3 linked regions of the Homo sapiens genome follow. The protein of the gene in region 2 interacts with the protein of the main gene of each other region in a pairwise test. Each region holds a gene or a part of one and is shown on either strand. Other genes may lie near its edges. The genes, in order: CHST15, CANX and ABCA1.

The links.
Region 1: the proteins of CANX (region 2) and CHST15 interact in binary tests that used the Homo sapiens proteins (3 or more experiments, as listed by UniProt).
Region 3: the proteins of CANX (region 2) and ABCA1 interact in binary tests that used the Homo sapiens proteins (3 or more experiments, as listed by UniProt).

The regions. Positions count from the first base shown.
Region 1 is NC_000010.11:124,020,478-124,024,127, forward strand, and holds part of CHST15 (carbohydrate sulfotransferase 15), read right to left. Parts: intron 936-3,650; coding exon 779-935; coding exon of another isoform or gene 605-778; exon of another isoform or gene 1-604. UniProt on the Homo sapiens protein: Sulfotransferase that transfers sulfate from 3'-phosphoadenosine 5'-phosphosulfate (PAPS) to the C-6 hydroxyl group of the GalNAc 4-sulfate residue of chondroitin sulfate A and forms chondroitin sulfate E containing GlcA-GalNAc(4,6-SO(4)) repeating units.
Region 2 is NC_000005.10:179,722,820-179,726,469, forward strand, and holds part of CANX (calnexin isoform d precursor), read left to right. Parts: coding exon 1-200; intron 201-840; coding exon 841-960; intron 961-1,837; coding exon 1,838-1,964; intron 1,965-3,650. UniProt on the Homo sapiens protein: Calcium-binding protein that interacts with newly synthesized monoglucosylated glycoproteins in the endoplasmic reticulum. It may act in assisting protein assembly and/or in the retention within the ER of unassembled protein subunits.
Region 3 is NC_000009.12:104,813,101-104,816,750, reverse strand, and holds part of ABCA1 (phospholipid-transporting ATPase ABCA1), read left to right. Parts: intron 1-405; coding exon 406-608; intron 609-2,275; coding exon 2,276-2,324; intron 2,325-2,519; coding exon 2,520-2,633; intron 2,634-3,650. UniProt on the Homo sapiens protein: Catalyzes the translocation of specific phospholipids from the cytoplasmic to the extracellular/lumenal leaflet of membrane coupled to the hydrolysis of ATP.

The sequences.
Region 1 (3,650 bases), on a different chromosome or scaffold from region 2:
CTCTGTAGTAAGAAAGAGGGGGCAGAGCCTCTTGGCCTGAAGTCCCACCACCTGGGGGCTTCCAAGACTCCACAGCAGGCCTGTTGGTGCCTTGCTATGCGAGACGCTGAGCAGAGCAAGGCTTGTAAAGCCACTCTGGAACACGCAGCGGCAATGCTCGCTGCATAAGCCCTGCTGTTGAAGTACACAGCCAGCCCAGGGAGCCCAGCATGGAAAACTATCCCGGGGCTAAAAGGTGCTGAATTCACCAATAACAGCTTTTTGCATTCAAAAAGGCTAGAAATTTACAGACATAGTTCTGAAGGAAGAACAAGAGATACGATTGAGGAATCAACAGAAAATGTTTTTCAATTGAGACTCTGTCAAAGAAGCATTGAAAATCATTGATGGGTAGTTTTTTAAACCAACAAAACAATCCACCGCTCAAGAGAATGCTCTTAAGACAATTTGAGAGTTGGGTGTCCTCATGTCTGCCGATTCTAATTGCTGGGTGTCTTGCTAAATGGTAATCTTCCTAAAGGCACCCTCATCCTCCTGCTGAGGGAGGAGGGGGAGGTGGCAGGTGACCAGCAGGGAGGAAGGCAGGAGCCAGACCAAGAGCCCATCAGTTTTCAGCTTTTACATCCATGAATAATGGGGAACAGCATTTGCACATTAAAACGCTTCTCTCTGTTCCTATGCTGAAACGCAAACCCACAATGCCGCTTGCATAATAACAACAAACCAGCTCCTTCTGCCAGGGGCCAGCTCGGGGGGTACGGGGGGGGGGGGTACACACAGGCATGGCGTTGTTGAGGGTGTTGTTGTAGACGCAGGCGCGCAGTGAATAATCAAGCATGCAATTTTCAAACAGCTGCAGTGCTTCTGTCACTTTCTCATGGAAGTCGTCCGCGGATTTATTCGAACTTGCAAAGTAGAGATAGTCTGAGTACAACCTGTGAATAAAATAAATGCATATTTTTACCACCCATGAACATGCAATCACACCATTTGGGCGACAATGAAAATCAGTGTACAATTACATTATCTAGTTTTCCTGATTGAAGCACAACCACCCTTCTTCTTTCCCTTGCAGATGAGCCACCTCCCTCATCCCTCCGAGCTCCCGCCCTTCTCGTGGCCACCTAAGCTCTTCCAGACCCAGACATGTCTATACTGGCCCCACACAAACCACCAGCCGCTTTTATGGTGTTGCTTGTTCTATCATCTCAGGCAGCCTCTGTTTTCACAGTAACAGGGAGCTTCAAACAATACCAGATTACAAAAATGGTACACTAGCAAAGAGAAGCCATGAAAATTTTATGCACCTTCTCATTCCTCTCTCCTCTACTGAAGGGAACAAAAATAAGAGCATCTGTTGCTCTCACAATATTACAATTCCGCATGAAATTCCCACTACTTTGCATACGCATTCCTGACATTGAAAAAAAAATGATGAGATGTATCTTTCTAGGTTGGTAGGGACCTTGTTTTTAACACGATGTAAAAGCACCCCCACATATGCACAGGAATACCTGCAGACTTACACGTTTACCCGTGGACACAGATCTGTTCCTAGACACCACACACACGTATGGCAGAATGCTGCCGCACGGGAACTGATCGTCTTCCTTGACCCACTTCAGGCTCCTCTGTATCCTCCTCCCAACTAGACCTTAACTTTTTTACCTCCAGGTCCATCTCTGCACCACCCTATTTTAGCAAGAATCCTGCTGTTAAATAAAATGTATGAGAGGCTACTGTTCTGGACTGAGCTTCTGCAATAGGCCCCCACAGGCCAGAACAGAGTCATCTGTGCTAGGTGCCACGTAATTGAACTGAACTCGGAATGGGCCAGTTTCCAAAAAACCAGGGGATACACAGCAACCAGTCAGACGTCCCCTTTGCTTTAACCCTAGAAGGAAAGTCACTCTGAAATGAACAATCCACTCTCCGTTGCCTGTTTTTGCTTCTTCAGCCCGTTTCTGCCTATAAAGCCAGAACCTGGCTGGGCCCACAGGAGCACCTTCGTATTACAGGAATGGGATGCTGCCCTGTTCATGGACCGTGCTAATAAACACCAGTGAGATCTCTAAACTAAATTTGTCAAAATATTGTTTGTTGACACTGCTATGCTGGTTTAGCCAGAATCCCCCACCCTTGGTTAACTGACCACCCTTCTTATCTGATCAGGTTCCTAGTCCACCACCCCCAGGAGATGCCTGGCCACCTGGCCTGTCTCCAGCAAGAATCCCATCGGGTTGGTTTAGCCAGAATCCCCACCCCTTCCCCCTTGATGTTTCCCCTTAGTAATTTTCTAGCCACCAACCCCCTCGCCCTGCTCCTTGGCATTTCTTTTTTTTTTTTTTTTTTTTTTTGAGACAGAGTTTCACTCTGTCCCCCAGGCTGGAGTACAGTGGCGTGATCTCAGCTCACTGCAACGTCCGCCTCCTGGGTTCAAGCGATTCTCCTGCTTCAGCCTCCCGAGTAGTTGGGACTACAGGCGCCTGCCCACCAAACCTGGCTAATTTTTTTGTATTTTTCGTAGAGATGGGGTTTCACCATGTTGGCCAGGCTGGTCCTGAACTCCTGCCTCAACTGATCCACCTGCCTCGGCTTTAAAATCCCTACTTTTCCTAGTTGTATTCGGAGTCTCTCTCCTCTACTGAAAAACTGTCATGGCAGTCCCTATACCTACCACAATGGTCCTGAAGAAGGCCTGCATTGCCATTTTAATAAATGTCAGGGCCAGGCACAGTGGCTCATGCCTGTAATCCCAGCACTTTAGGAGGCCGAGGTGGGAGGATCACTTGAACCTAGGAGTTCAAGTCCAGCCCAGGCAACATAGTGAAACCTTGTCTCTACTAAAAATACAAAAAATTAGCCAGGCGTGGTGGTGCGTGCCTGTAGTCCAGCTATTCTGGAGACTGAGGTGGGAGAATGACCTGAGCCCAGGAAGTTGAGGCTGCAGTGAGCCGTGATCATGCCATTGCACTCCAGCCTGGGCAATGGGAGTGAGAACCTCTCTCAAAAAAAAAAAAAAGAGGTGTTTTTATCTTCAACAGAACATTCAGGGTGTGAGTTTCCTACTCTTTTTTCTCCTCTATCTCTCCTTGCAGCCCTTTTTGTCTGTTTTCAACCTTCCTGCCATATGTCCCACTCTCTTCTTGCACACACACCTGCATCTCTGGGCCAAGGGTGAAACTGGGCTTATGAAAAACATGGCCTACGTGGCTCCACAGGGTCACACTTCTCTCTCCTCAAAGCTCTATACTTTCTATTCCTTCAACTTCTCCAACCTGGCTTCCCCTCTTTCCAGGGAAGGCAATTCTGTGACTCTCATTCTGCACCCATGCATCCAGGTATCTGACATCCATATTTCCGTCTTCGTTTTTTTTTTTTTTGAAGCGGAGTTTCGCTTTTGTTGCCCAGGTTGGAGTGGAATGGCGCAATCTCGGCTCACTGCAACCTCCGCCTCCCGGGTTCAAGCAATTCTCCTGCTTCAGCCTCCTGAGTAGCTGGAATTATAGGCGCCTGCCATCACACCCAGCTGATTTTTTGTATTTTTAGTAGGGACAGGGTTTCACTGTGTTGGCCAGGCTGGTCTCGAACTCCAGACCTCAGGTGATCCACCCACCTCAGCCTCCCAAAGTGCTGGGATTACGGGCGTG
Region 2 (3,650 bases):
GGAAAATACCAAATCCAGATTTCTTTGAAGATCTGGAACCTTTCAGAATGACTCCTTTTAGTGCTATTGGTTTGGAGCTGTGGTCCATGACCTCTGACATTTTTTTTGACAACTTTATCATTTGTGCTGATCGAAGAATAGTTGATGATTGGGCCAATGATGGATGGGGCCTGAAGAAAGCTGCTGATGGGGCTGCTGAGGTTCGTGTTTGCTGCTTGTGCATTTGTGTCTGTTATTGTAAGGAGCTGTTATTTTGTGAAAGTCTGTGTTAAGGTTTTTTTTCTTCATTTGGCAATATTGGCATAAAAAGTATAACCATATGCCTGCAAAAGACACAATATTGGGTTTTGGGGCATGATTTCATTAGTCTAATGTAGTGGCTTTAGAGTCTGTTTGTGTTCAGGGTTTTTTTTTTATTATTTGTCTGGGTATATATTTCGAAATTTGTCATTTAGGCTATATTTTAATACACTCTTATATGTTGAATCTCGGTTTACACTACATACAGAATTTTCAAACAACTGGTCATGTGGCCGATTTAAGAATTGGAGAGCCAGGGATACTGAGATAAGAAATTCACTGGATCCTGAGGTTAAGGGAGCCTTTTGCAGGTGATGTAGAAGCCAGCTTTTGCACCTATGAGAGTGAAATCATCTTGATTATAAGGAGAGCAAGAGGATGGAGGCTTTCTCTAATTTCTTTTTTACATTTTATGAGCATTTTCTCTGAAAAAGAAGGTCCTGCGTAGTGCCATGCCATAACTGAACTGCAGAAAAACAGCACGGCCTATGTTTGGTGTCAAAAGCTGGAACTTTCAATCAGCCCTGTCTTGTTTTTCAGCCAGGCGTTGTGGGGCAGATGATCGAGGCAGCTGAAGAGCGCCCGTGGCTGTGGGTAGTCTATATTCTAACTGTAGCCCTTCCTGTGTTCCTGGTTATCCTCTTCTGCTGTTCTGGAAAGGTAGGAAGTTTTTTTTTTTAGAATCAATTTTAGAGACATCACTCTAGTGATTATTAAAAATAACTAAGATATGTTGCCTGAGGTTTTCTTTGTAGTGGCTCAGTAATGACCAAGCCATGTTTGGTGTTGACTTCAGAAACCTTACTTACTGTTCCTCAGTGGCCGTTTATTGTGCCCAGATGGGAGCAGGATTTATAGCCCCTTGGTTGCTATTATTATTTATCCTAATCTGTTACTCTCCATAGTGTTCGGCAGCAACTTTCTAAAAAAAAACAATAAACTTAGATACCAAACTAGCCACTTGGGCAATAATCAGCTTTGCCTGCTGGCATAGCTATTTCTATTCTTTGTAATTCAGTCTTTGATTCCTCATTATCCATTCTGCCTTCACCTTCCCCACTCTCAAAACAGTATGTTGGGGTACCACAGCCTTATTGTTAGTTTTTCTTGTTTAGCCTTTTTTTTTTTGCATGCTATCATAAAAAAAGAAAGTCTTATTTTGGACTCTACTTCTGCTAAATGAGGATTATGCTTCATCTGGCATTCATAGCACTTTGTAACTGGATCCCAAGTTCCTTTTCCAGCCTCAGCCTCTGCCACTATTCTGTGTATCGGTGCCTCAGTCACCTTGACTTTTTTGACCTTTATTTTCCTGCCTGGCCCTTTTGTTTTTATTGTTCTACCTTGAAACACACAAGCACATGTGCATACACACACGTACATACACGCTCTTCAGGGTAGGAATTACATCCTATTCGTTTCTGTATATCTATCCCTGTATACAGCCTGGAACAGAACTTTGCCTGTAGGCATTCAGGAATTATATAACATAATACATGAACATGTAAACAAAATTGTACTTTGGGGAACATTTCAGAAACAGACCAGTGGTATGGAGTATAAGAAAACTGATGCACCTCAACCGGATGTGAAGGAAGAGGAAGAAGAGAAGGAAGAGGAAAAGGACAAGGGAGATGAGGAGGAGGAAGGAGAAGAGAAACTTGGTAAGAAACAGAGTCCAGAAAATCTGCTTTAAGCCAAGACCCTACGATGTTGTTAAACCTTTACAGTCAAGTTAAGGATTGTTTTTAGCCAGGCGTGGTGGCTCAAGCCTGTAATCCTAGCACTTTGGGAGGTTGAAGCAGGAAAATCACTTGAGCCCAGGAGTTTAAGGCTGTAGTCAGCCAGGATAGTGCCACTGCACTCCAGCTGAGCAACAGAGTGAGACCCTGTCTCTCTCTCTCTCTCTTTTTTATTTTTTAAGACAAGGTCCCACTCTGTCACTCAGGTTGGAGTACAGTGGCACAGTCACAGTTCACTGCAGCCTTGACCTTATAGGTTCAAGTGATCCTCCTACCTCAGCACCCCTCCAAGTAGCTGGGACCACAGGCATGCGCTACCATGCTCAGCTGTTTGTTTGTTTGTTTGTTTATTGATTTATTTATTTGATATGGTCTGGCCCTGTTGCCCAGGCTGGAGTGCAGTGGTGTGATCTCGGTTCACTGCAGCCTTTGCCTCCCAGATTCAAGCGATTCTCCCACCTGGGCCTCCCAAAGTGTTGGGATTACAGGCGTGAGCCACCAGACCCAGCGAGATCCTGTCTCTTAAAAAAAAATTGTTGGCCAGGTGCGGTGGCTCACGCCTGTAATTCCAGCACTTTGGGGGGCCGAAGCAGGCAGATCACGAGGTCAGGAGGTCGAGACCATCCTGGCTAACATGGTGAAACCCCATCTCTACTAAAAATACAAAAATTAGCCGGGCATGGTGGCAGGTGCCTGTAGTCCCAGCTACTCAGGAGGCTGAGGCAGGAGAATGGCGTGAACCTGGGAAGGCAGAGCTTACAGTGAGCCGAGATTGGGCCACTGCACTCCAGCCTGGGTGACAGAGCAAGACTCTGTCTCAAAAAAAAAAAAAAAAAAAAAATTGTTGGCCAGGCATGGTGGCTCACGCCTGTAATCCCAGCACTTTGGGAGGCCGAGGTGGGTGGATCACGAGGTCAAGAGATCAAGACCATCCTGGCCAACACAGTGAAGCCCCGTCTCTACTTAAAATAAAAAAGTTAGCCAGGCATGGTGGCGGGCGCCTGTAGTCCCACCTATTCGGGAGGCTGAAGCAGGAGAATCACTTGAACCCGGAAGGCAGAGGTTGCAGTGAGCCGAGATTGCGCCACTGCACTCCAGCCTGGCGACAGAGCGAGACTGAGTCTCAAAAAAAAAAAAAAATTGTTGGCCGAGCAAGGTGGCTCACGCCTATAATCCCAGCACTTTGGGAGGCCAAGGTGGGTGGATCACCTGAGGTCAGGAGTTCGAGATCAGCCTCGCCAACATGGTGAAACCCCGTTTCACTAAAAATACAAAAATTAGCCAGGCGTGGTGGTGGGCACCTGTAATCCCGGCTACTCCGGAGGCTGAGGTAGGAGATCCACTTGAACCTGGAGGCAGAGGTTGCAGTGAGCCGAGATCATGCCATTGCACTCCAACCTGGGTGACAAGCAAAGTCGATCTCAAAAAAAATAGTGGCCGGGCGCGATGGCTCACGCCTGTAATCCCAGCACTTTGGGAGGCCACCGAGGAGATCATGAGGTCAGGAGATCGAGACCATCCTGGCTAACACGGTGAAACCCCGTCTCTACTAAAAATAAAAAAAGTTAGCCGGGCATGGTGGCAGGCGCCTGTAGTCCCAGCTATTCA
Region 3 (3,650 bases), on a different chromosome or scaffold from region 2:
TTAAGATTCCTTTACTCAAGTTTTCTTTTGAAGAATCCCAGAGCTTAGGCAATAGACACCAGACTTTGAGCCTCAGTTATCCATTCACCCATCCACCCACCCACCCACCCATCCTTCCATCCTCCCATCCTCCCATTCACCCATCCACCCATCCAGCTGTCCACCCATTCTACACTGAGTACCTATAATGTGCCTGGCTTTGGTGATACAAAGGTGAATAAGACATAGTCCTTTCCTTTGCCCCCAACCCTCAGACCAGAGATGAACATGTGGAATGACCTAAACACCTGGAACAGGTGTGGTGTATGAGCGGCAGGCCTCTGATGAGAGGGTGGGGGATGGCCAGCCCTCACTCCGAAGCCCCTCTGAGTTGATTGAGCCATCTTTGCATTCTGGTCCCTGCAGATGTCTCTGCTATCTCCAACCTCATCAGGAAGCATGTGTCTGAAGCCCGGCTGGTGGAAGACATAGGGCATGAGCTGACCTATGTGCTGCCATATGAAGCTGCTAAGGAGGGAGCCTTTGTGGAACTCTTTCATGAGATTGATGACCGGCTCTCAGACCTGGGCATTTCTAGTTATGGCATCTCAGAGACGACCCTGGAAGAAGTAAGTTAAGTGGCTGACTGTCGGAATATATAGCAAGGCCAAATGTCCTAAGGCCAGACCAGTAGCCTGCATTGGGAGCAGGATTATCATGGAGTTAGTCATTGAGTTTTTAGGTCATCGACATCTGATTAATGTTGGCCCCAGTGAGCCATTTAAGATGGTAGTGGGAGATAGCAGGAAAGAAGTGTTTTCCTCTGTACCACAGTACATGCCTGAGATTTGTGTGTTGAAACCAGTGGTACCTAACACATTTACATCCCAACCTTAAACTCCTATGCACTTATTTACCCTTTAATGAGCCTCTTTACTTAAGTACAGTGTGAGGAACAGCGGCATCAGGATCACTTGGGAACTTGTTAGAAATTCAGCAACTTGGGCCCAGCTCAGACCTACTGAATCAGAATCAGGAGCAATTCTCTGGTGTGACTGTGTCACAGCCAGGTATCAACTGGATTCTCATACATAGGAAATGACAAACGTTTATGGATGGATAGTCTACTTGTGCCAGGTGCTGAGATTTGTTTTTTGTTTTTTGATTTTTTTTTAATCACTGTGACCTCATTTAATTCTCAAAAAAAGATGAAAAAATGAACACTCAGGAATGCTGACATGAGATTCAGAATCAGGGGTTTGGGGCTTCAAAGTCCATCCTCTCTTTATCCATGTAATGCCTCCCCTTAGAGATACAACATCACAGACCTTGAAGGCTGAAGGGGATATAAAAGCTGTCTGGCCAAGTGGTCTCCAAGCTTGACAGTGCAGCAGAATCACCTGGGGATATTATTAAAAATAAACATACTAAGGTTTGGCTTCAGGGCCTGTGAATCAGAATTTCTGGAGGTGAGGCCTTGAAGTCTGTATTTCTATTGCATACTTTGGACACAGTGGTCTATAGACTAGAGTTTGGAAATGATTGCGCTCATTCAGATTCTCTTCTGATGTTTGAATTGCTGCCATCATATTTCTAGTGCTCTATTTCCTCCTGCTCATTCTGTCTTGGATAACTTATCATAGTACTAGCCTACTCAAAGATTTAGAGCCACAGTCCTGAAAGAAGCCACTTGACTCATTCCCTGTAGGTTCAGAATAAATTTCTTCTGCGCAGTGTCTGTCATAGCTTTTTTTAAATTTTTTTTTATTTTTGATGAGACTGGAGTTTTGCTCTTATTGCCCAAGCTGGAGTGCAGTGGTGCGATTTTGGCTCACTGCAACCTCCACCTCCCAGGTTCAAGCGATTCTCCTGCCTCAGCCTCCCAAGTAGCTGAGATTACAAGCATGTGCTACCACGCCCAGCTAATTTTGTATTTTTAGTAGAGATGGGTTTTATCCATGTTGGTCAGGCTGGTCTCGAGCTCCAGACCTCAGGTGATCTGCCCGCCTCGGCCTCCCAAAGTGCTGGGATTATAGGCCTGAGCCACAGCGCTCAGCCATAACTTTAATTTGAAAATGATTGTCTAGCTTGATAGCTCTCACCACTGAGGAAATGTTCTCTGGCAAAAACGGCTTCTCTCCCAGGTAACTCTGAGAAAGTGTTATTAAGAAATGTGGCTTCTACTTTCTCTGTCTTACGGGGCTAACATGCCACTCAGTAATATAATAATCGTGGCAGTGGTGACTACTCTCGTAATGTTGGTGCTTATAATGTTCTCATCTCTCTCATTTTCCAGATATTCCTCAAGGTGGCCGAAGAGAGTGGGGTGGATGCTGAGACCTCAGGTAACTGCCTTGAGGGAGAATGGCACACTTAAGATAGTGCCTTCTGCTGGCTTTCTCAGTGCACGAGTATTGTTCCTTTCCCTTTGAATTGTTCTATTGCATTCTCATTTGTAGAGTGTAGGTTTGTTGCAGATGGGGAAGGTTTGTTTTGTTGTAAATAAAATAAAGTATGGGATTCTTTCCTTGTGCCTTCAGATGGTACCTTGCCAGCAAGACGAAACAGGCGGGCCTTCGGGGACAAGCAGAGCTGTCTTCGCCCGTTCACTGAAGATGATGCTGCTGATCCAAATGATTCTGACATAGACCCAGGTCTGTTAGGGCAAGATCAAACAGTGTCCTACTGTTTGAATGTGAAATTCTCTCTCATGCTCTCACCTGTTTTCTTTGGATGGCCTTTAGCCAAGGTGATAGATCCCTACAGAGTCCAAAGAGAAGTGAGGAAATGGTAAAAGCCACTTGTTCTTTGCAGCATCGTGCATGTGATCAAACCTGAAAGAGCCTATCCATATCACTTCCTTTAAAGACATAAAGATGGTGCCTCAATCCTCTGAACCCATGTATTTATTATCTTTTCTGCGGGGTCCTAGTTTCTTGTATACATTAGGTGTTTAATTGTTGAACAAATATTCATTCGAGTAGATGAGTGATTTTGAAAGAGTCAGAAAGGGGAATTTGCTGTTAGAGTTAATTGTACCCTAAGACTTAGATATTTGAGGCTGGGCATGGTGGCTCATGCCAGTAATCCCAGCGCTTTGAGAGGCTGAGGTGGGTAGATCACCTGAGGTCAGGAGTTTGAGACCAGTCTGACCAACAAGGTGAAACCCCGTCTCTACTAAATACAAAAAATTAGCCGAGTGTGGTGGCACATGCCTGTCATCCCAGCTACTTGGGAGGCTGAGGCAGGAGAATCGCTTGAACCCAGGAGGCAGAGGTTGCAGTCAGCCACGGTTGCGCCATTGCACTCCAGACTGGGCAACAAGAGTGAAAACTCCATCTCAAAAAAGAAAAAAAAAGAATTAGATATTTTGGATGAGTGTGTCTTTGTGTGTTTAACTGAGATGGAGAGGAGAGCTAAGACATCAAACAAATATTGTTAAGATGTAAAAGCACATCAGTTAGGTATCATTAGTTTAGGACAAGGATTTCTAGAAAATTTTTAGGAACAGAAAACTTTCCAGTTCTCTCACCCCTGCTCAAAGAGTGTATGGCTCTTACATTATATATAACTGCCTGACTTCATACAGTATCAGTACTTAGATCATTTGAAATGTGTCCACGTTTTACCAAAATATAATAGGGTGAGAAGCTGAGATGCTAATTGCCATT